Homo sapiens: one gene and its partners. The protein of the gene in region 1 purifies or fractionates together with the protein of each later gene. This does not show direct contact. Each region holds a gene or a part of one and is shown on either strand. Other genes may lie near its edges. The genes, in order: AMOT, PPARA, KSR1, USP9X, ATF1, METTL17 and TEAD4.

Evidence for each region.
Region 2: the proteins of AMOT (region 1) and PPARA purify together in Homo sapiens (co-immunoprecipitation; one large-scale study listed by IntAct). This does not show direct contact.
Region 3: the proteins of AMOT (region 1) and KSR1 purify together in Homo sapiens (co-immunoprecipitation; one large-scale study listed by IntAct). This does not show direct contact.
Region 4: the proteins of AMOT (region 1) and USP9X purify together in Homo sapiens (affinity purification with western blotting; 3 studies listed by BioGRID). This does not show direct contact.
Region 5: the proteins of AMOT (region 1) and ATF1 purify together in Homo sapiens (co-immunoprecipitation; one large-scale study listed by IntAct). This does not show direct contact.
Region 6: the proteins of AMOT (region 1) and METTL17 purify together in Homo sapiens (affinity purification with mass spectrometry, with the first as the bait; one large-scale study listed by BioGRID). This does not show direct contact.
Region 7: the proteins of AMOT (region 1) and TEAD4 purify together in Homo sapiens (co-immunoprecipitation; one large-scale study listed by IntAct). This does not show direct contact.

What each region holds. Positions count from the first base shown.
Region 1 is NC_000023.11:112,778,332-112,781,831, forward strand, and holds part of AMOT (angiomotin), read right to left. Parts: intron 2,788-3,500; coding exon 2,555-2,787; intron 2,458-2,554; exon of another isoform or gene 2,387-2,457; intron 1,350-2,386; coding exon 666-1,349; intron 334-665; coding exon 236-333; 3' UTR 1-235.
Region 2 is NC_000022.11:46,153,526-46,157,025, reverse strand, and holds part of PPARA (peroxisome proliferator-activated receptor alpha), read right to left. Parts: intron 1-3,500. UniProt on the Homo sapiens protein: Ligand-activated transcription factor. Key regulator of lipid metabolism. Activated by the endogenous ligand 1-palmitoyl-2-oleoyl-sn-glycerol-3-phosphocholine (16:0/18:1-GPC). Activated by oleylethanolamide, a naturally occurring lipid that regulates satiety.
Region 3 is NC_000017.11:27,620,448-27,623,691, forward strand, and holds part of KSR1 (kinase suppressor of Ras 1), read left to right. Parts: intron 1-745; coding exon 746-826; intron 827-1,481; coding exon of another isoform or gene 1,482-1,488; exon of another isoform or gene 1,489-2,866; coding exon 2,867-2,945; 3' UTR 2,946-3,244.
Region 4 is NC_000023.11:41,091,945-41,095,444, forward strand, and holds part of USP9X (ubiquitin carboxyl-terminal hydrolase 9X), read left to right. Parts: intron 1-3,500.
Region 5 is NC_000012.12:50,818,882-50,821,662, reverse strand, and holds the end of ATF1 (cyclic AMP-dependent transcription factor ATF-1), read right to left. Parts: intron 2,029-2,781; coding exon 1,884-2,028; 3' UTR 501-1,883; downstream 1-500.
Region 6 is NC_000014.9:20,992,980-20,995,257, reverse strand, and holds part of METTL17 (ribosome assembly protein METTL17, mitochondrial isoform 2 precursor), read right to left. Parts: intron 2,141-2,278; coding exon 2,067-2,140; intron 1,290-2,066; coding exon 1,195-1,289; intron 716-1,194; coding exon 645-715; intron 465-644; coding exon 357-464; intron 94-356; coding exon 25-93; intron 1-24. UniProt on the Homo sapiens protein: Mitochondrial ribosome (mitoribosome) assembly factor. Binds at the interface of the head and body domains of the mitochondrial small ribosomal subunit (mt-SSU), occluding the mRNA channel and preventing compaction of the head domain towards the body.
Region 7 is NC_000012.12:3,018,397-3,021,896, reverse strand, and holds part of TEAD4 (transcriptional enhancer factor TEF-3), read right to left. Parts: intron 3,353-3,500; coding exon 3,309-3,352; intron 2,783-3,308; coding exon 2,727-2,782; intron 1,264-2,726; coding exon 1,124-1,263; intron 54-1,123; coding exon 1-53. UniProt on the Homo sapiens protein: Transcription factor which plays a key role in the Hippo signaling pathway, a pathway involved in organ size control and tumor suppression by restricting proliferation and promoting apoptosis.

The DNA of each region.
Region 1 (3,500 bases):
AAGCTTTAGAGCACATTCTGATTAATCTGTCTTTAGAGGTACTCCCTAAGCATACCAAAATAGACTGGTGTTCACATGGTATTACTCAAGTAGTACATTGTTCCAATAAAAAGTCCTGTTAAAAAACATCCCCTCCCCACAACCCTTGTCCTCACCCTCAAAACAAGAACCAATAAAAGGGGGAAAATGATTAAAAGCATTTTTGCTGATAATCTGCAGCTCTTGATTTGGCCGTTTAGATGAGATATTCCACCATCTCTGCATCAGGCTCTTGTCCCAGGATCTGAATGGGAGTTTTTCTTTCCAGAGTATTGGAGTGGAACACAGGCCCATCTAAATGGAAATAAGGGTTAGAAAACACTTAGGGATGAAGAAAAAACCCATATTTCTAGAACCAGACACCATCAGAGCCCTCATGAAGCCAATGGCAAAGTGAGACTTGCCTGCCACCTCCCTCATTTACTTCTGCTAAGATAATGGCCTCTACTCATGCCTGTTCCCATCTTGGTGGATGAGAAGTCATTTACAGACTCTCTTCTCTCTCCTTTAGAACGTGAAAAACTCAGTCCAAATGATAACTCTGCCCAGACATCAGACAACAAGAAATAAATCTGTATTTGAGAGCAGAACTAAACCAAAACCTACCTGCTAAAGGGAATAATTACCTGTTTTGTCTGGATTGCAGGTCAAACTTGGTATAGACAAACGATGTGGTCCAGGACCGGTAGCTGGACTTGCAGGAACCTCAGCCTGAGCCACAGCTGGAGTTGGAGTTGGAGCTGGAGTTGGAGCCACAGCCGGAGCTGAAGTTGGTGCCTGAGTCTGAGCAGGAGCAGAAGCCTGAGCCGCTGCTGGAGCTGGAACCGGAACCAGAGCCGGAGCTGGAACTGGAGCCGGAGCAGCTGGAGCAACCTGAACAGCAGCAGCAGCAGCAGCAGAAGGAGCAACGGCAGCAGCTGAGGCAACAGAGGCAGCAGCTGGAATCTGACCAGCAGCAGCTGGAGAAACAGCAGCAGCAGTAGCAGCGGCAGTGGCTGGAGACGGGGCAGCAGCAGCAGCTGGAGCAGCAGCAGCAGCAACAGCAACTGGAGCAGCAGCTACCATGGTGGTGGTGATGGTGGCAGCAGTGGCAGTGATGGCGGCAGCAGTGGCGGCAGCAGCAACTGGAGCAGGAACAGAGATGGGAGCAACAGCTGCAGTTTTGTTCGATTCCGTCCCACGTTCAGTTTGGGTACTGCAGTCTCGGCTGCCTGTCTTGGAGTGAGCCGAGAGCAGGGGAGTCGAGGGTGGCACAGGCGAGGGTGTGGAAGGGACATATTCAGCACGGTAGTCTCCACCCAGGAGAATGCCTACAAATGAAAGAGGAACAGATGTTAGAAAACAATAGGTGATTCAAATCCAGACATCTAATTACCTGTTCTCCCATTCAAATTTCAGAAGAAATTTATTTATTTTTAAATAAGTAAATATTATTTAAATATTTAAAATATTATTATTTTTAAATATTAAATAATTTAGAATAGTCTAAGTTATTTATTTTTGCCTCCAGGGAACCCAGAAATCAGTGTGTGAGGCTCCTCCAACCATGGCTAAAAGTTTCCTACAGACTTCGAGGATCCCTTCTGGTCCTCATCCATCACCTGGCACAACATATTAAGCCTGTAAGTGACCTGGGTATCTGTTTTGATTTATTTTTCCAATGGTGATTGGGTTCCACCAAGTTGTCAGAATGCTCCTACTCGGCTCCACTTATAAACCATTACCACACGTTACCAGGGAGCAAGAAAGGATCTGGGGAAGAAGTCTGTTGACACAGATTGAGTGTGGTAATAATTGTGTGATCTGAGGTTCTCACCATGACCATAGTCCCCAAAATGCTTATTCTAACCAAAAGATATTACAAGTATCAGAGGACCAAGAAAGGAATTAACAGCAACAAAAAGGGTTAAAATAAAAATATATATAAGCTTCCTTCCTCGGGCTCTAAAAATGTGCCTCGTGGTATCCACAATATGTCTGGGGTTTTGATTAGAGGGGAGGGAATGGACAGGAACGGAATGAAAAAGTACATTCTGTTCTCATCTCACAACACTGTGGGAACAAAACCTGCTACCCAAACGATTTAGTGTAACTAAAACTCTGGGTTCTCCTATTATAGAGGAGGAAGGAACACAGAAATGCCGGAATTTTGACATTTGGAACGACACAAAGGCCACATGGGCTTTGGAGAAAGATAAAGGTGCCACATGGCAAAGGCCAAATCTGAGAATAGTTTAGAGGAAATTAGAGTTATCTTCCTTGACACCCAAATGAAACTCAAGATTCTTGTCCTCTAAGCCTTGGCCTCAATCGGTATTCTCACCGGGAGACTTCAAAGTGTGGAGGAGCTCCAGAATGTGGAACTAGGGTCTCAGGAGGAAAAAAAAACTCCAAAACCCTGGTACACCTTCCTCTCTAGAACCTGGACCATCATCCCTTTTCCTTAAGCATGGGTGCTTATCTCAGGGCTCTCTTTGAACACGTGACTATAATCTTCCTTATTTACTGTCATTACCTAGGCTCCCCTTCCAGCTCTTGTCGTCTCGCTTTTCTTCCATGATGGGGGAGCCAGTCAGGGTGGATGAGTGGGAGAGCAAGCCTGATCCAGCATTGGAAATGGACATCAGAGACTTCGCTGGCCGCATGCACGACAGCTGCTCTGTCTTGCTCGGCTCCTTCCGGGAACGCTGCTGGAGTACTTTGATCATGGCATCCTTCTCAATAATCTGGGCATGGAGGGTCTTAATCCTAGGAGCCAAAGGCAAAGAACATATAAAGACCTTGTTGTGGGCTGGGCGCGGTGGCTTACGCCTGTAATCCCAGCATTTTGGGAGGCCGAGGTGGGCGGATTGCAAAGTCAGGAGTTCGAGACCAGCCTGGCCAACATGGTGAAACCCTGTCTCTACTAAAAACACAAAAATTAGCTGGGTGTGGTGGCAGGCGCCTATAGTCCCAGCTACTCGGGAGGCCGAGGCAGGAGAATCACTTTAACTTGGGAGGCGGAGGTTGCAGTGAGCCAAGATAGTGCCACTGCACTCCAGCCTGGGTGACAGAGCAAGACTGACTCCATCTCAAAAAAAAAAAAAAAAAAAAAAAAACCTTCTTGCTACCTCCACATTTTGGTCTAATTGACTACATGACTACGTGGAGCTCCCATTATCTTTTCGACTAAAGGCTGATCTAGTTAGTTCTGAGTTGGAAAACAAGGGATGGTGTGCTACAGTTTTTAAAACATGTTTTTTCTTTTTTCTGCACACCCAAATGGATACAGCAGAGCATCCAGGAGCTGTTGCTTAAATCTTAGTAAGTCACAATAAAGTACCAGTGAAAAAAAAGGCTGAATATGAGAGAATGAACTGATGTACTAGGTGCTGTAGTGAAGAATCTCAGTCAATGGAAACAATTTACTCAGTGAGAAGATGAGATCTATGAATGAGCGACAACCTGCAGGTAGTAAGTAA
Region 2 (3,500 bases), on another chromosome or scaffold:
CAGCAGATCCCTCTTCAAGATGAAGAGGCCTGGTCCAGGTATGCCATGGAGTTGGAGTAAGAGCAAACACAAGGTATAGCCCTGCCAAAACCTGAGGTCACAATCACCTTCAAAACACACAGGAGGCCGGGTGTGGTGGCTCACGCCTGTAATCCTAAGACTTTGGGAGGCTGAAGCAGGTGGATCACCTGAGGTCAGAAGTTCAAAACCAGCCTGGCCAACATGGTGAAACTCCATCTCTACTAAAAATACAAAAATTAGCTGGGCGTGGTGGCGGGTGCCTGTAGTCCCAGCTACTTAGGAGGCTGAGGTGGGAGAATTGCTTGAACCCGGGAGGCGGAGGTTGCAGTGAGCCAAGATTGTGCCACTGCACTGCAGCCTGGGTGACAGAGTGAGACTCTGTCTCAAAAACAAAAACAAACACATAGGAACCACTTGTAACAACTTTATTGTACTGGTGGAGAAATCTCACTTTTATATTCCAAAATGAAAACCAGTTTTGGTGTATAAGGGGTACGGTAGCATGTTGCTTTCTGAAAGCCTTTGAAAAATCCTAAAATGGCCACAGTGAAAACAACACAGGTATCAGACCTGGCTAAGTGAGAAAGGCAGGAGCCAGCGGTATGTCCTCCTTCTTAAGACACCTCCTGAGATGGGCAGTTTTTTAAGCTGCCACTTCGAGCTTCACAGCCCTTCAGAGAGGTGGTATGGAGAGGAACTTCATTTTCTGATGAGAAAGCAGCAGTTTAAAGAAGAGAACAAAGGTCTCCAGGCCTGGCAGGCAGCAGCTAAGGGGCTAGAATCCAAATCTCATGATTAATGACCTAATACCTTTTCCACTATATCAAGCTGCTTTGCAGATACACAGCAATATTTCCAGATTTCCAACCACTTTTACCATATGTGAGCCTCAAAACCAACGCAGCTCAGCTGCAAAGATAACCATGATAGGTTGAGACCTGGCAAGGAGTAAGTTCTTTTCTTTTCAAATGCATAAACTTTTAAGACACCGTAATATCACTATTAAAAGATGCTAATTAAATATCCTAAAAGCAAAGAATGCACACACCTCTGAGTAACGAGCAAATCCGGTCCTGTCTGGAAAATATGCCTGCATGGTGCTCCTTTCCAAAGAAGCTCAGTGCATGCAAGCGGCAGAAATACTTGGAAAAAGAAGCACATTCTTTTAAACATGGGCCGCTGGAACAGCTAAGGCTTTCTCCTATTTGATTCTTACCTTAAACCCATCTTATCACCAAGTTGAAAATGTAAATTCTGTGCCCAAGTTTCCCTAACCACATGGCCTTAAAGGTGATCTAGCTTATTCTGGGCAATTCATAAGGCTGAAATGACAGACATAGCACATTTCTACCCCATAATCAGAAACTATACCTTTTTAAAAAGTATCTACAGCTGGGCGCAGTGGCTCACACCTGTAATCCCAGCACTTTGGGAGGCCGAGGCGGGTGGATCACCTGAGATCAGGAGTTCGAGACCAGCCTGGCCAACATGGCAAAACCCCGTCTCTACTAAAAATACAAAAAATAGCCAGGTGTGGTGGTGGGCACCTGTAATCCCAGCTACTGGGGAGACTGAGGCAGGAGAATCGCTTGAACCCAGGAGGCGGAGGTTGCAGTGAGCTGAGATTGCGCCACTGCACGCCAGTCTGGGCAACAAGAGCTAAACTCCGTCTCAAAAAAAGAAAAGAAAAGAAAAATGGACTCTATGCCAGGCTACCAAAAACAAATAAAAACAGAGACTCTCAAGTTCCAAAAAAGCAGAAATTAGACAGGCCACAACCTCTAACTGCAATGTGACAAAATTAGTACAAACATTAAAGAAAAACACTGACTACTTGGAAGTAAAGACACTCATCCTATTTGCCATTAAAAATATATCCATCCACACACAGAAACCAATAGAGCAAAAAAAGAGAAGAAAAATTGGCATGTTTCAAATATATTTATAATAAGCAAATACATATTTTAATTAATGTGGTTTTTTTTTTTTTTTTTTTTTTTTTTTTTTTTTTTTTTTAAAGAAAGACCACTTATGCCGGGTGCAGTGGTTCATGGCTTAGTCCCAGCACTATGGGAGGCCGAGGCAGGAGGATGGCTTGAGCCCAGGAGTTTGAGACAGGTCTGAACAACATAGCAAGACCCCGTCTCTGCAAAAAATACAAAAATGAGTCAGGCCTGGTGGCGTGTGCCTGTGGTCCTAGCTGCTTGGGAGGCTGAGGTGGGAGGATCACCTGAGCCCAGGGAGGTCGAGGCTGCAATAGGCCGTGATCATGCAGCTGTGCTCTAGCCTAGGTGACACAGTGAGACCCTGTCTCAAAAATAAATAAATAAATAAATAAAATTAAAAACACTGCTTAAAGATGATTACATAAATATTTATTTATTTTTTGAGACCAGGTCTCACTCTGTCACCCAGGCTGGAGTGTAGTGGTGCCATCTCAGTCACTGCAACCTCCACTTCTCAGGCTCAAGGGATCCTCCCACCTCAGCCTCCCAAGTAGATGGGGCCACAGGCACACGCCACTATACCTGGCTAATTTTTGTATTTTTAGTAGATGCAGGGTTTCGCCAGGTTGCCCAGGCTGGTCTTGAAGCCCTGGGCTCAAGCAATCCATCCCCTTCGGCCTCACAAAGTGCTGAAACCATAGGCGTGAGCCACTGCGCCCAGGCTACTTAAATATTTATTTAAAAAACAGACTCTCCAAAACAGCATGCAAGAAAAAGAACACTGGCCACCAATTACTAAAGAGTAAGATGTCCCGGCAAAAATAGGTTCTTCATCTTTTACCATGATGAGGATTATCTTTAAGTTTCTTTTTTATATTCTGGTATGAAAATCAGTTTCATGGATTCATGCTTGTCTTGTTCAGCACTGCGGACAGTAGCCCACAGCAGCTACTCAGTCAATATTTATAGAATGACTGTATTAAATATATACACATAAAGAGATTGGCTAAATATTATTGTATCTAAACACAATGGGATATTATATAGACATTTCAAATGATGCAGAAATGTTTTTCACATAGGAAGATTTTTCATAACCTACTCGATAAAGCAAGTTACAAAATAGTGTATAAAGAAGACACATTTTCTCCTTCTTCTCTGTCTAGTTCTGTCTCTCTCATATACAATTTTTTTTTTTTGGAAACGGAGTCTTGCTCTGTCACCCAGGCTGGGGTGCTGTGGTGCCATCTCAGCTCACTGCAACCTCCACCTCCCGGGTTCAAGAGATTCTCCTGCTTCAGCCTCCTGAGTAGCTGGGACCATAGGCACCCGCCACCATGCCCAGCTAATTTTTGTATTTTTAGTAGAGACAGGGTTTCACCATATTGGCCAGGCTGGTCTCAAACTCCTGATCTTGTCATCTGCCCACCTCAGCCTCCCAAAGATTACAGGTGTGAGCCACCGCACCCGGCTGATACACAATTTTTAAAACTCTGTTCATAAGTTTGACAAACAGGAGCTAATGAAAACCAC
Region 3 (3,244 bases), on another chromosome or scaffold:
CTCCTAGTACAGTCCCAGGAACATTATAGTTGGGCACTAAATATTTAATGTGCATGAATGAATGTGAGCAAAGGGTGATACCATGCCAAGTGCTGTGATAAAGCCCAGATGGGGGCCTCTGCATCCACCTGGGGGACAGGAGGAAGAGTCTCTGGAAGAAGGTCGTCAGGGCTGGGTTTTGAGCCAGAACTATCCCAGCAGAGACCAGGAGCATGGGGCTCTTAGCAGTTCAAGGAGGGTGATGTGAGGCAGCGAGGCCAAGCTCTAATCAGACCGTGGGCAACTTGCTTAACAAGCTGGGCCCTGGTTTTCTCCGTGACGAAAGAAAAGGCTCCACTAGGTGGACACTGGCATTCAGAACATCATTCCAGATTCCCCAAAAACCATATAGTCCCACCTTCTCATTTCACAGGCAGGAAACTGAGTCACAGATGGGGCTGTTCCCTGCCCAGCCCCTTCGAGGAAAGCATGCGGGCTTTCCTTTCCTGAATGAGTCTGTGTCAAAGCTTCCTGTTCACAGTGTTTACTTTCTACACGCTTGCCCCCTAATTCTCACTTTCTCTTTTCTTTCCATTGATCTTGTCACTTTTTTATTTTCGGGGGGTGGCGGATGTGCTGTTCTGTCATCTCCCACTTTCCCATCACCTGATTCCTCCACCTGTCCACACGTGCCTGACTCCATCACATGCCGGGGCCGGACTGCGCTCTTCCCACGCCTGGTGGAATGGTCGCTGGGCACTCCCAGTCGCTGGAGGAGCCGCTACTATGGAAAAGGACGCTACGGCCACCCTGACTTTAAGAGCTCCTGTCCGATTCTGGAGGAATAGTGTGTTCCTGTTACTTCCTTCGCTGGCTGCCTGTCTCTGGTTTTCCTGACACAAGCCCTGCTTCCTTTCTGTCGCCGCTTCCCAGCTTCTCCCATCTTTGTGTCATTTATTCTCGCAAACCAAAGTGAGGTTTCTGCAGCTGAAATGGCTTCCAGCAAGGGTCACACAGGCTTGCATTTTTCGCTGGGTGAGAGAAGAGCCACAGCATGTGGCGGGGCCTTTGTCCACACCATGAGTGAATGGGTGGCTTGTCCCTGGGTCGGAGAAAATTCTGGTCATTGATTTGAGCCCCCAGGATCCCAGTCCCCCTGGCCAGAGCTCAAGAGAAGAGAATCCAGTTAAGCAGAAATACTCTTGGAAGTAGATTTTACTCGTCAAGGGCTAAGGAGCTGTGGGCATGTTCCATCCTCTTTATAAACGTGCTGCAACTGTGCCCTGCGGGAGCTTAGAGAGGGTTCTTTGTGCCCAGGATCCCTTCTGAGCATGCAGTGCAGCCAAGCCTGGGGGATGGAGTCCAGGATGGCCCTTTCTCTCTGGAAGAGAAAGGGAGTCCCCTGCCCAGCTGCTCTGGCCAGACCTCTAGCTCCCGACAGGCTCTGCATTGGGGCTATGATTCTGATGCTGTTCTTTGCTTTCTTCTCTTTCCCTCTGTAGGTTGTAGGCCTGGCTGCCTTGCATGCACCAGGGGCTTTCTTCCTCCTAATCAACAACTCAGCACCGTGACTTCTGCTAAAATGCAAAATGAGATGCGGGCACTAACCCAGGGGATGCCACCTCTGCTGCTCCAGTCGTCTCTCTCGAGGCTACTTCTTTTGCTTTGTTTTAAAAACTGGCCCTCTGCCCTCTCCACGTGGCCTGCATATGCCCAAGTAACTGCTCTCAGAGGATCCCACTAACTGAGCTCCCTCCAAGGCAGTCTGGGCAGCTTCTAACTACCTTCCTGGACATGACTGATTGCTCCCGTGTTCTTCTGAGGGCTGGTCTTGTTTTTGTTTGGGTGGCTCTGTCTCACTGCTAACACCTTAGTGAGATGCCTTCCACCCTCCTGAGCACACCAGCCTCCCACTGGGTGTGTGCCTAGTGCGGGGCGGGCGGAGGTTGGGAGGGTGTTGGCTTGGCTTTTAACCTGTGGGGATTTTGTCCAACAAGGAGTGGAATGATTTCAGAGCTGCCCTGAGGCTGGCACCCTGGTCACAGGAACCCTCTGCGCTGGCTCCTGTCTCAGTCCCCTCTGTAGAGTTAGATCAGAAGACACAGAAAGTTCTGTGGCCATGAAAGATACCAGCTTGGAAGGGTTGTGTCTTCAGTGGCACCCTCAGAAAAATTGTCTTAAAGCAAAGAGGTACCTGGCTCCAGACAATTTTTCTGATGAAAACAAAGTCTCTGCCCCGTCCCCACCCTGCCACCCTGGCAAAGTTACTTCCTTTACAGCTGCCCAGTGTACCATAGACCAGACCCCAGGTCAGCATTTGTCAAGAGCATGGCTGCTGAGTCCCCTGTGGCAGTCAATGCACTGTTTACCAAATGCAGGTTTCTGTTCTCCCTCCCCAGCAAGACCTGCTGAACCCAGATCTCTGGAATGGGGCCCTAGGAATTTGCATTTCAACCTGCTTCCCAGGTGGCCCTGATGCACCCCAGTATTAGAGTTTATTGCTAAAAGGAACATGCCCTGTCACTCCTGGTATCCTGGGAGTCATGTTTCTCTTCTCTCTCAGTTCTACTTGGAGCAAGAGCTTTCCTGGGCTGCAAATGAGAAAACAATTCCTAGGAACCCACAGCAGTACTGAGCATGCTGGGAGCTTGGGACTTGGAGATGAATGAGCCACCGTTGCTGCTCCAAGTAGGACTACTTGGAGTGTAGCTGAGGCCTTGGACGCAGTATGACCAGGGGCAGCTCTGCCAGGGCTGTTGGCCAATCAGTCATTTTCATTTCTTGTTGGAGGCCAGGTCCTCTGCTGAACTCATTTCCTAGCTAGTGTTACCCTAATTCTGATGAAGATCAATGGGGCTATAATTCTTGTTTTTGTTCCTCTTTGCAGCATTAACAGCAGCAAAGTTGTACCCCGGTTTGAAAGGTTTGGCTTGGGCGTCCTGGAGTCCAGTAATCCAAAGATGTAGCCAGCCATATGGTTTTTCGCTGCTGATCTCTTTCTTTTTAAAATGTGTTTCTGAAACATCCCAACAACCACCACGACAAAAAAACACTGCCTGCCCAGCGCTGCAAACCAGGAGCACACGTCCTAGATTCAGACTGTTGGCCATAAACCCCACTCGGGAGATGGAGCTGCACCTGCTATTTCTTAAAATGACACCACCAACAACCAAACCTGTCATGACAGACAGCAAATGTTTACACGTATATTTCTCCTGAGTGAACCTGATGTTTTACAATAGGTAATAATAAAAACAGTCTGTGC
Region 4 (3,500 bases), about 72 Mb from region 1:
CACCTAGAATAATACTGTTTATAATAACCATTTGATTACCTGAATGGGAAAATCTGGGGCAGTATTTAACTTGCAGTACCTCCAACCTCTTGTACAGAATTGATTCATCTTCATTTTATGGCACCCTACAGTTTATTCTTATTAATCATGTGAGCTTTGAACACCATGTTAGTCAACCATAATCAAAGGAATTGTTTTCCTTGGGATGAGTTTGAGCTGGTGATCGTGCATATTAGATCCCATCTTCTACAGAGCCTGTGAATTGGGTGGAAAGGAAAAAGGGAGTGGCGAAGCCTCCTGTTAGTATCCTTGATGTCCATTTTATTCCTGCTGACTTTGGTGGCTATTGAGAGTTATAAGTTGAGGCTGTTGGTTACATCTCTCATTTCTAGTCTTTTCTGTTAACTGGTTACTTAGAACTCCTAAGTAAGGCCGCTCATTATTAACTTGGACCCCAGAGAGCATGGAAGTTACCGTATAGTATTGAACCCATTTCTGCCTAACAGTGTTTTCTCTCTGGTCGAGGTGTAGTGTACAAAGTTTTGGTTGCTCTGCTTGGTAACATCTCTGGAGTTCAGAGCACAGGGATCAGTAAACTTTTTCTGTAAAGGGCCACATAGTAAATACTTTGGACTTTGTGGGCTAAGAGGCAAAATTGAGGACATTGGGTAAAATTTTTATTGGTGAAATAAAAAATATAATTAAATACAGTTATGTATAACTTAGGTCTAATGAGAAAAACAATTTGGTGTGTGTGTGTGGAGGGGAGGTAATACAGTATTTTGCTTTATTGGGTAAAGTTCAGTGTTCCCTGTCATCAAATTGATTGCAGACGTTCTGTGTGAAATCCATTCTTACCTTGTGAGCTGTACAAAAACAGGAGGCTGGAATTGGTCTGTTACCATAGTTTGCCAGCCCCTAGTTAAGAGCAGTGATTTTTTTTTTTAAGAGGAGGGGTCTCGCTGTCACTCAGGCTGGATTGTGGTGACGCAATCATAGCTCATTGTAGCCTGGAATTCCTGGGTTCAAGGCATCCTCGCACCTCAGCCTGCCGAGTAAGTAGGACCACAGGCCGACATCACCTCACCTGGTTAATTTTTGTTAGAGAACAGGGGTTTGACTGTGTTTCCCAGGCTGGTCTCAAACTCCTGGCCTCAAGCAATCCTCCTGTTTTGGCCTCCCAGTGTTGCTGGGATTATAGGCCTGAGCCACTGTGCTTGACCTCCTATTTGATACACTATATGTTAACAACTCTGAACCTCCTTTCCTTAAGTCAGGTTCAAACTTCTGTACATTAGCTGATGAAAGGGATTTCTTTTTATTGCAAGGTGGTATTGCCTGAGAATAGTTTGGTTTCAGCAGCTTTGCTGTATTTGTACGGCAGTATCTTGTGTTTATGTGCAAGTTCAGATGTATTTTGCCTTTTTATAAGAATGAGCAGAAAACAAAAAAGTAAATGGCGCGATCTCGGCTCACCACAACCTCCGCCTCCTGGGTTCAAGTGATTCTCCTGCCTCGGCCTCCTGAGTAGCTGGGATTACAGGCATGCGCCACCACACCCAGCTAATTTTGTATTTTTAATAGAGTTGGGGTTTCTCCATGTTGGTCAGGCTGTCTTGAACTCCCGACCTCAGGTGATCCGCCTGCCTCGGCTTCCCAAAGTGCTGGGATTACAGGCATGAGCCATCATGCCTGGCCTACCTGGAGGTCTTAAATATCCTTGAGACAGAGGGAACTGGTTAGGGATATGAATCTTAAACCTTACTGGATTAGGTTGTGCTCATTGGTTAGGTTAGTTGGCTTTGTGCAAATAGTGAATGCAATAATTAGAATGAAATAGGAATTAAGTGAGGCAAATGTATGATGAAGTTTACATTTGAAAGGTGAGGGTATAATTAGAAATAAAAGTTTCTGTACTCTGTGAGTGGGAAAAACCCCTAAAAAGGTGACTGTCGTTTTTGAAATTTTTGACTTCTCTCACATTTTCGGGAATGTGAAAGGAGGATACTGGCTATGTACAGCATTTGTCCAGACTTTTGAAAATATAGAAAATCTCATTTACTCATTTAATTAGTGTGTATATTATCTGTTTACTGTGTCCTTTGTAGATATAATTAATTATCCAGGATTCTTAAGAGTTGACTTGGAGCATGCTGAGCTGAGGCAAGAGGGATTGTGGGGCCAGACTGAGTGTTGGAGGAGGAACCTACTGTAGTGACTACAGGTGTATTTCTTTTTTCTTTTTTTTTGAAATGGAGTTTCACTCTTGTTGCCCAGGCTACAGTACAATGGCGTGATCTCGGCTCACTGCAACCTCCGCCTCCTGGGTTCAAGTGATTCTCCAGCCTCAACCTCCTGAGTAGCTGGGATTACAGGTGGGTGCCACTATACCCGGCTAATTTTGTATTTTTAGTAGAGATGGGGTTTCACCATGTTGGCCAGGCTGGTCTCGAACTCCTGACCTCAGGTGATCCACCTGCCTCATCCTCCCAGAGTGCTGGGATTACAGGTGTGAGCCACCGTGCCTGGTGTGTTTCTTGTCTGATGTCAGTGCATGTCGTTATCTGAGCCATATCAATGTCAGCTGAGGATTGCTTTGTTATCCTCGGTGCATTATGGGAAGGAGAATCATGTCAGTGCTACCTTACTGTGATTGAATTGAATTCATTGATTTAATATAGATTCAGTTAGTACGCCTTATCCATAATATTTGGGATCAGAAGTGTTTCCGATTTTGTAATTTTTTCCCCATATTTTGGAATATTTGGAATATTACTTGCGGGTGAGTGAAAATTCAAAATCCGAAATTTGGGGCCAGGCGCGGTGGCTCACCCCTGTAATCCCAGCACTTTGGGAGGCTGAGGCGGGCAGATCACTTGAGGTCAGGAGTTCGAGACCAGCCTGGCCAACATGGTGAGACCCCCGTCTCTACTAAAAATATGAAAATTAGCCAGGCATGGTGGTGTGCACCTGTAATCCCAGCTACTCAGGAGGCTGAGGCTGGAGAATCCCTTGAACCCAGGAGGTGGAGGTTGCAGTGAGCCCAGATCGCGGTACTGCACTCCGTCTAGCCTGGGTGACAGAGCGAGACTCCGTCTCAAAAAAAAAAAAAAAAGTTCAGATTTTGGAGCATTTTGGATTCCAGATTTTTCAGATAAGGGATGCTCAACCTGTGCCATTTTAGGCACCAGAGGGTATATAAAGATGATTCTCTGCTTTCAAGGCTCTGAAGTATGGTGAACCAGACAGTTATACAGTGCAATTACAGCTGTATTAAGTGGAGGTGTGAAAAGTGTAGTAGGAGAGATGGAGAAATCATTGTTTGGCATTGGGTGAGGTCTTCAAAGATGTCCTATTTTCATGGCCCTATTAATTAGAGCAGGGACTTCCGGTCAGAGGGATCAACTTGAGATCAGGCAGGGTTTTTTAACCCTATTGACAGTTTGGGGCAGATAAGTCTTTGTTGTGAGGTGCTGTCCTACTCAGCCCTGGCTTCTACC
Region 5 (2,781 bases), on another chromosome or scaffold:
ATTTATGGAACCATTAATGGTTTGCCCTGACCTGTTTCATACAGCTAGAGTAAGTAACTGGGTCTAGTTAGCAAGGCCCTACACCAGAAGTCTGAAGGCAGCAGAGTTTACAAATATTTGCAGATGTCCAGCTGTTAAGGCACTAAGAGCTAGGCTACCTCTGTTGTAAACAAGCACGGTGTCTACCCAATAATATATTATCATCTGTTGAAAAAGTCTTTTGACATAACCCAGTGACCTCATACCTCCTCATATTCTTAGGCCTAACGGGCCACCAGTTTGAGATTCTGGCTTTACACAAGGTAGTAAGTGATATAAGTAATCCCCCTGGCGATCAAACTTTTTTTTCTTTTCATAAAGTGCTGCCAAGTCAACAGAGTCCCATTTTAAAAGACCCTTCTAATGAGAAATTTCATCAGGAGGGTCAAACACAAATGTATCAGTTAAGTGAAGATTTCTACGTAGCATTAGGATAATTAACAGCATGGCCAGGAGCAAGCTTATCATTCATATACCAAGCATTATATTTTACATTCAGTAGACTATCAAATGTCCTTTAATTTCACAGACAACAATATGATGCATACTGTGTAAGAGCACACAATAGTTTTGCAGTACAATTTTAAACTGTATACAAATTGGAATATAGATGTTAAACGCTGGTGTACTGACAGTATTTTTGAATTTTAGATAAACTGCATACAAAATTTACAATGCAAATATTAGCCAATCTGAAAACGTCCCATAATATAAAAATGATACTTTGAGATGCAAATTTTACTAAACTATATAAACATTTAAAATAATCATTAAAAACTCAACATTAGAATTTATAAAGATCAGCTATAAAAATATATTGGCAGTCACTTTTCTTATAAAGGTACCACTCACTACATTACAAAATAGTCTCTAACATAAAATTGCCTTAATAACTATACTATTATAGAATCTGATAAACCTTACATTATTAAATTGATTATAAAATCTTCTTGGAAAAACTTTGGTATGTATCTTCAGAAGGTTTTTTAAAAATAATATTTTAAGGGCCTGTAAACATTCCATTCTATTAAAGCACAGCAGAATAAGTAATGGATATTCAACTGCATACAGAATATAGACTCAAAAAAACAATTTATTATGTATTTGTAGAAAATCATTACCAGAGTAAGCAAAAAAACCAACTATTTAAAAGTATCAAACTTTTAAACAGTTCTTTTTCCATTCTGATAAAAAATGTTATAAAATCACCATACTCCATTCATGTACCTTAGATGCCTTTTAGGATAAGACCTCAAAAATAATTAACCTAGTCTCAAAAATCCATTCAAGTCCAATAACAAACTTTTAAAAACCCACTTAAAAAGACTTGACACTAGAACAAGTATACATAATCAGAACATATACTTTATATATTTAGTAATGTACTAGGTTTTCTCTTACCTTTGTAATTTAGAATTTATTGGCAGAAATTACACACACACACACACATATATATAACTAAAAAAAGGTAAATTTCAGCAAACAAATGCAAACCTGTAGGGTAAATGGATTTTTAAAAAAAATTCAGTTTATCAAATTTCATCTTCTCTGCCATTTTAGATTGGCAACTATTGGTTATTTAGAAAATTTAGACTGCTGAAAGTTCATTTCTTGCTCCTTGAATATGTTTAATTTCTACAAAGCTTCCAGTTGTGCCCGTAGCTTCCTTGAGGTCATTTTCCACTTTCTCCTCTGTCACTAGATATCGTGCGTAAGATATTTATCCTTGATTTGGAAAAGCCTAAATAAAAAGCTTCAGTTTTGACCTTTTAATTTATAAAACTCCACTAGGAAATCCATTTAATTTTTATGCATGTCCACAAAAATATTTTCTTTCTTAGGAATCAAACACTTTTATTGGAATAAAGATCCTTCAAAGTTTTTAACTCTTCTATTAGAGTTTTATTTTGATTTTCCAGGACTGCAACTCGGTTTTCCAGGCATTTCACATATTCTTTCTTCTTTCTGCGACATTCTCGAGCAGCTTCTCTAAATATGAGCATTAAAAAAACAATGTTAGAAAAAACTTCACATTCTTTAAATGGTAAATGTTCTTCAGTAATTTTCCGTGGTCACCTTTTTTTCTCTTTAAAGTATCATCTACACACAGAGAATACATAGATCTTAAGTGTAGAATTCAGTCAGTTTTGGCAATTGTGTATACCTGTATAACCCACACCTCTGTCAAGACAACAGAACATTCCCACTGTCCCAGAAAGTTCCCTCATGCCCCTTCCTGGTCAGCCCCCTTCCAAGCAACTATCGTTTTGATTTTTATCACCAGAGATTAGTTTTTTTCCTATTCTAGAACCTCATGTAAGAGTGTCATACACTATGTACTCTGGTGTCCCTTCACTCAGCCCATCTGAGGTTCATCCATGTTGCTGCATGGGGGTTTGTTCCTTCACACTGCTGGACATAGTTCACTGTATGAATATAACCACCATTTGTGTATCCAGTCTCTTGCGATGTTTCTAGGGTTAGCTGCATAGGCATGTTTTTGTGCCAGTCTTTTTGTAGAAAGGTTTCATTTCTCTTGAATAAATACCAAAGAGTGAAATTATGGGTCCTCTGGTTAACTTCTGACACATGACTTCTTTTATTTAAGTTCAAATTACAAACAATGCTTGAGCAAATACTCAGTTCTGTGCATGTCCTCTTAAAACATTTCTGTGAAGTCATATGTAAGTTTATATACATATAGAAATCGGAAGTATTGGCCAGGCATGGTGGCTCATGCCT
Region 6 (2,278 bases), on another chromosome or scaffold:
GAGTGAGGGAAGAAGAAGCCTTACCTTAAGGACCAGATCCCTGGCATCCATGAGAAGGCTGTGCCCAGCTTTTGTTCCATTCTCCACCAGTACCTGTTCACAAAAGGGGAAAATATGCAGAAGACTTGAATTACACGAAAGTATAAATGTCAGTAGCTGTGTAAGAGCAATCATAGAGGGAGAAGGAGTCCTAAAAAGAAATAGGCATTACATAATCAGGATGGAGACCCTCAAAGAGGGATAAAGAAACCCATGAAGGAGAAAAATGGTGAAGAATAAAGACAATGAGAGGAGCAAAGGCATGAAATCCATGAAGCTGCTTCAAGACTTAAGGAGAACAAGGAATTTTAACTCACCAGGAAATGACCTGTCTTACGCCATAAGGTTTGAACTACCTCAGTGCGGTCAGCCTTGCTGGGCAGTTCACTTAAGGAAAAAGCTGACACTACTACATCAAACTGCACCTGAGGACCAAGACAAGGAACATGACAGACTCAACATCTCTACATCCCAAGAATACAACAAAGTCCTAGCCGCTAAATTTCTTTTATCTTCTAACACTCAGTGCTGGGCTGCAAAGCTCAAGCCATAGTTTTCCATCTGCCACATTCCACATTTAGAATATTCTAAACACTGCCACTTGCCTTGGGTGATACAGGTAGAAACTGTCTGAAAAAGACACCTGGAATATAAGGCTCCCCAGATTCTGAACCACCTGTGGAGAAAAGAAGAGGCAACTGTGAGTGTGTAGGAAGTTAGGTATAAACTGAAGAGATATCCAGATAAGAAACATGGCCCCAAGAATAGGTAAAGTGTATATCAAAAAGGGCAGGGATGAGCCAGGTATGGCGGTGCGTGCCTGTAATCCCAGCTACCCTAGAGGCTGAAGTGGGAGGATGGCTTGAGGCCAGGAGTTTGAGACCAGCCTGGGTAACATATGGAGACCCTACCTCTAATTAAAAAAAAAAAAAAAAGGGCAGGGAGAATATTAGGCCTCCTGTCCTTTGATTCTTACCCAACCCATCCTCAGTCCAGCAGAAACCTCTAATACCACCCTTTGCTTGACTATAACTTTAAAAGTAAACCAGATTCATCTTAATTTTTACCCTCTTCTCTACTTCCCAGTAAAACACTTTTACTAGTACCCCTTTGCTTTCTTAACTCCCTCAACTTTGGAAGTGCTCTTGCACTCACCTTTCAGTAGTTTTTCTGCCAAAACCAACATGGCAGCTGATCTGTCCACACACATATATTCACGTAGGCTCTGGCCCCAAATACTGTGAGCAGCCCTAAGATGGCAAAATTATTATAAATCACCAATTCCCATGACCAAGAGTCATCTCTACAAGAGGCCCATTTACACCCAACCCCACCCCTGGGAAAAGAGAGTGTTATGTTAAAGTAGTTGTATAGTTAGTAATAAAATAACTAATAGTGTTATTTTCTTGTTTTATTTACAACTCCTAAAAAAAAAAAGGTAGACTCAGCTGGGCACAGTGGCTCATGCTTGTAATCCCAGCACTTTGGGAGGCCAAGGTGGGCGGATCACAAGGTCAGGAGTTAGAGACCAGCCTGGCCAATATGGTGAAACCCCGTCTCTACTAAAAATACAAAAATTAGCTGGGTGTGGTGGCGTGCACCTGTAGTCCCAGCTACTCGGGAGGGTGAGGCAGGAGAATCACTTGAACCCAGGAGTGGAGGCTGCAGTGAGCCGAGATTGTGCCACTGCACTCCAGCCTGGGCGACAGAGTGAGACACCGTTTCAAAAAAGAAAAAAAAAAGGTAGACTCAAAATACTATTTGTAGGCAAAAACAACTTTGATTGATAATTCCTTTTCTTTTTAATTTTTCTACACATGCGCCTTTTTTTACTTGACATTTCTTTTAAGTTCTGGCCCCAATCCATATACCTTCTTCTGCCTTGCCTAATCTGATGGAAGAAACATTATAGATTCCCAACTTGCCTATTCTCCCTCTGGTTTTCCAGTCTGTTAATTTTGGAGTGGTGTAAGTATGGCTTTCTAGAGCTAAAATTGACCAAGATAGGGCTGAAGAAAGTTACTCACCAGGTGACAGAACCAGTACCTGAGCCAAAGTCCATCAAAGTTTGTGGCTGAAATGCTGGATTTCGAGCCCGGATCTGAAGAAATATACAACATCCCACAGTAGGGTAATTAGATACTTATTTAGGACCTTGATAAATGTGAATTAGGAGGCTATCACAGAGGATGTGAGATGTGAATGCCTTTTGAGATTCAATACAAATACCTTATGGGAT
Region 7 (3,500 bases), on another chromosome or scaffold:
TCGCTGTAGCTTGGGCTGGACTGGCCAATGTGCACGAACAGGTGCTTGTTGTACTGTGGAGAGAGTGGGTCTGAGGGAGACGGAGCACAGGCCAGACGGTCAGACAGACAACCCTGGCTCTGCGTGCCCACCACGTGACCTGGTGCAAGCCGCTTGGCCTTTCTGGGCCATAGTTTCCCCATGAGTAAAATAGAGATGGTAAAAGTCTACTCCTTTTGTTTTACATCCTGGACTTCTAAGTAAAGGTCTATTTGGTTCATGGGTTCCTCAGCTAAAAAGAAGTCTGAGCCGGGTGCGGCGGCTCACACCGGTAATCCCAGCACTTTGGGAGGCCGAAGTGGGTGGATCACTTGAGGTCAGGAGTTCAAGACCAGCCTGGACAACATGGTGAAACCCAGTCTCTACTAAAAATACAAAAATTAGCCAGGTGTGGTGGCAGGCACCTGTAATCCCAGCTACTCCGGAGGCTAAGGCGGGAGAGTCGCTTGAACTCAGGAAGTGGAAGTTGCAGTAAGCTGAGATCATGCCACTGCACTCCCAGCCTGGGTGACAGAGTGAGGCTCTGTCTCAAGAAAAAAAAAAAAAAAAAGAAGTTTGAAGATGTCAGAGTGAGAAGGGCCCTGGCATCCTGTCACCTTGGCCTCCTCCAGGTCCCCCTCTGACCTTTGCAGGTGACGCTGGTCACCCAGGACACTGGACACCGAAGGGGACAGGCTGGTATCCCATAGGATATGGAGCAGACACAGGAGACTCCTCAGCTTCCTGCCCGCTTCTCAGAACCAGAGAGAGGCTGGGACAGTGTAGGGGTGGGGCTGGGACCAGAGCAACCTTGGACTAAGGGTCGGTTGGGTTAGGAGGGGAGGAGGAACACAGGACAGGGAGGGAGGAGCGTGACGCTGACTGGGCGCTGGGACACGGAAAGGAAGCCAGGGAGGAGGGAAAGAGGGAAGAGGGGTGACGTGAAGGAGGAAAGGAGGAGTGGGGGGAAGGGCAGAAGGGAAGATCGGAAAGGAACAGGGAACTTGAATTAAGCCCCAGCATGGAGTGGGGCAAGACTGCCGGAAGCAGAAACAGAGGGAGAGGGGGTGACCAGGGAGCTGGACAGGCAGAGGCCAGGACCTACCGTGTCCGGGTCCTGCTGCTGCTCCAGGAAGGCAGAGAACTCCAACATCCAGAGCTTGGAGCTGGCCACGCTGCGGCCCTGCCATGGGGGTGCCGGGGGCGCAGAGGGCGATGGGGCGGGCCCTGCAGGAGACTCAAACCCTGCACAAAGTGAGAAAGGCACATGGAACCTGGTCACGGACACCCGCCCTGCCCGCACCCTCTGCAAGGACCCCAGGCCTCCTCGGACAGACCCGTGCTGCCTGGGGGGACCGCCTGTCTCCCTAAATGGACCTCCTAGCAGAGGTGGTGGAGGGAGTGCCAGGCTTGGGCCAGGGCATCCTGGAGCTGCCCTGGTGGGGAGGGGCTCGCCTGGTACAACTCGGGCCACTCAGCACTCTGCATGGAACCGCCGAGCAAGACTGGATTCTGGAGGGCAGCTGGGGCCCTGCAGGACCGAGAGGCTTCCAGAACAGGCACTGTTAAGTTCCTGCCCTCAAGCAACTTCTGTTCCAGTCGGGGAAATAACCAGATGAATCCACTATTACAATATGGCATCATCCCGGAGAGACGGGGACGTTTCCTGTTTGCATCACATGTGTCTCCCCCGCTCCCAGAACAGGGCCTGGCCCAGAAGAGCCCCTCAATCCAGCGTTGCTAACAGATGAACCTACTCCAGTCCTACTGTAGTTTAGATCGTGTCCTGAAGGCACCAGGGGGCCAGGAAGGCACCATAAACCTGGAAGCAACACCGTGAGACTGAAGCTCTGGTGAGTGACAGGGTGACGAGAGGAGGTGAGACGGGACAGCGAGCCGGTGGAGAGGCTGCTGCAGGAACGCAGGCAAAAGCCAGCAGGCCTGGAGTGAAGACATGGTCAGTGTGGACAGAAGACTGGCATGAGACAGAGGGTGGACGGGACCTGACGCTGTGACTTTGTTTTGATGTGTGAACGAGAGAAAGCAGCCTTCAGGACCTGGGGGACAGAAGGCAGCAGGGCTGCTCTTGGTGGCAGGGAAAGCCAAGGGGCCGGGCAGGCAGACTCCACACCAGAAAGGGCAGTTTAAGAGTGAGGAGCTGGTCTTGTCCTACAGAGTGGGAGGTGGTGAGGGCCCCTCCTGAGAAAGAGACGAGGACAGAGCAGAGCCTGTCAGTGAGAGGGCGGGGTGGGGGCTCCTGTCAGCACCGCTGGCTGCCTCCACCAGGTCTTCTCCCACAAGGGTCCCTCTTCTCGGGAGGGGCTCCAGGCTGGTGAGCTAGACACCCCTCGGCCCTCCCAGGACCAGGTGTGTGAGGCACACTGCAGTAACAAGGCCGGCCAAGTGGGGCAGCCGCCAGGGCACGGGCACTGCCCTTGGAACTGCACGTGCCCCACAAGCCCTGAGCACAGCTTTGAGGGGACAGGAGCAAGGCAACCCGAGGGGCATGAAGGGGCTTGGCACACGGCTGAGGTGTGCATGCTGGGGGAAAGGAATGGGGTGTGGCCAGGGACTAGGACGTGTGGTCAGTGTGCATGACGGGGCAGCATCTAACAGGGACACGCAGGCGTTCGGCTGCCGGGGGCCTGGACCCAGAGGCAGGAGCCACATGGCTGCGATAGAAAGGGGGCCACGCAGCGCCCACCCACCTGGCAGAGGCAGCGGAGGCTGGACAGCATAGGTTTGCTGAGAGAAAGGCTTCACACTGCGGGAGAGAGAGGAGGGGAGGTGTCAGCCTCGGGCAGGCCACCGCCCCGGATCCCTGCACTGGGTCCAGTGGTCTGTGTGGTAGGTCCTGGTGGTCTGGATTTCAGTGGTCCCGATGGGCCTTGGCCTCCTACTCCCGCCCCTGCCGACTCCCCTGGGTTTCGTGGCGGGTCCACAGACACAGCGTGTCTGCTGAAGAAATCCACCCCTCCCTCTCCTCCTCCCAGGCCAGCCAGAGGTCTGCTTCCCAGCCTCCTCCCCTGGGGGACCCCAGCTCTGGCCCTGCCTATACCCTGGACAGACTGGAGTTTTGGCAAATACCACCCTAGGGTGTAGACATCACAGATGAGCCCAGTGATGGCTGACAGTAGAAGAGCCCAATCCCTGAGCTCAGAGCCATCCTGAAAGGCCGACCCCAGCAGCGGCCCCAGCACACCCTGGGGCCCAGGCTTAATGCCATGAGTTTATGGGTTCAAGTTCAGTTCAGGGAGCAACTGGCAAGAGAAACCAGAGGCCATACTCACTCATGGGACGTTCCGGCTTGGCCTGGCAAAGCTCCTTGCCAAAACTGAGGAGGCAAAAGGCATGGAATCAGCACGGCCCCAGGTGCACCCGGGGCCCTGTGGTGTGGGGGTGGGGGTAGGACCGGGCAGGGCCTCCACTGGGAGGAGAGGCTGGAGCCCGAGGCCTCGCCTAGCTAGTGAATGCTAACAGGC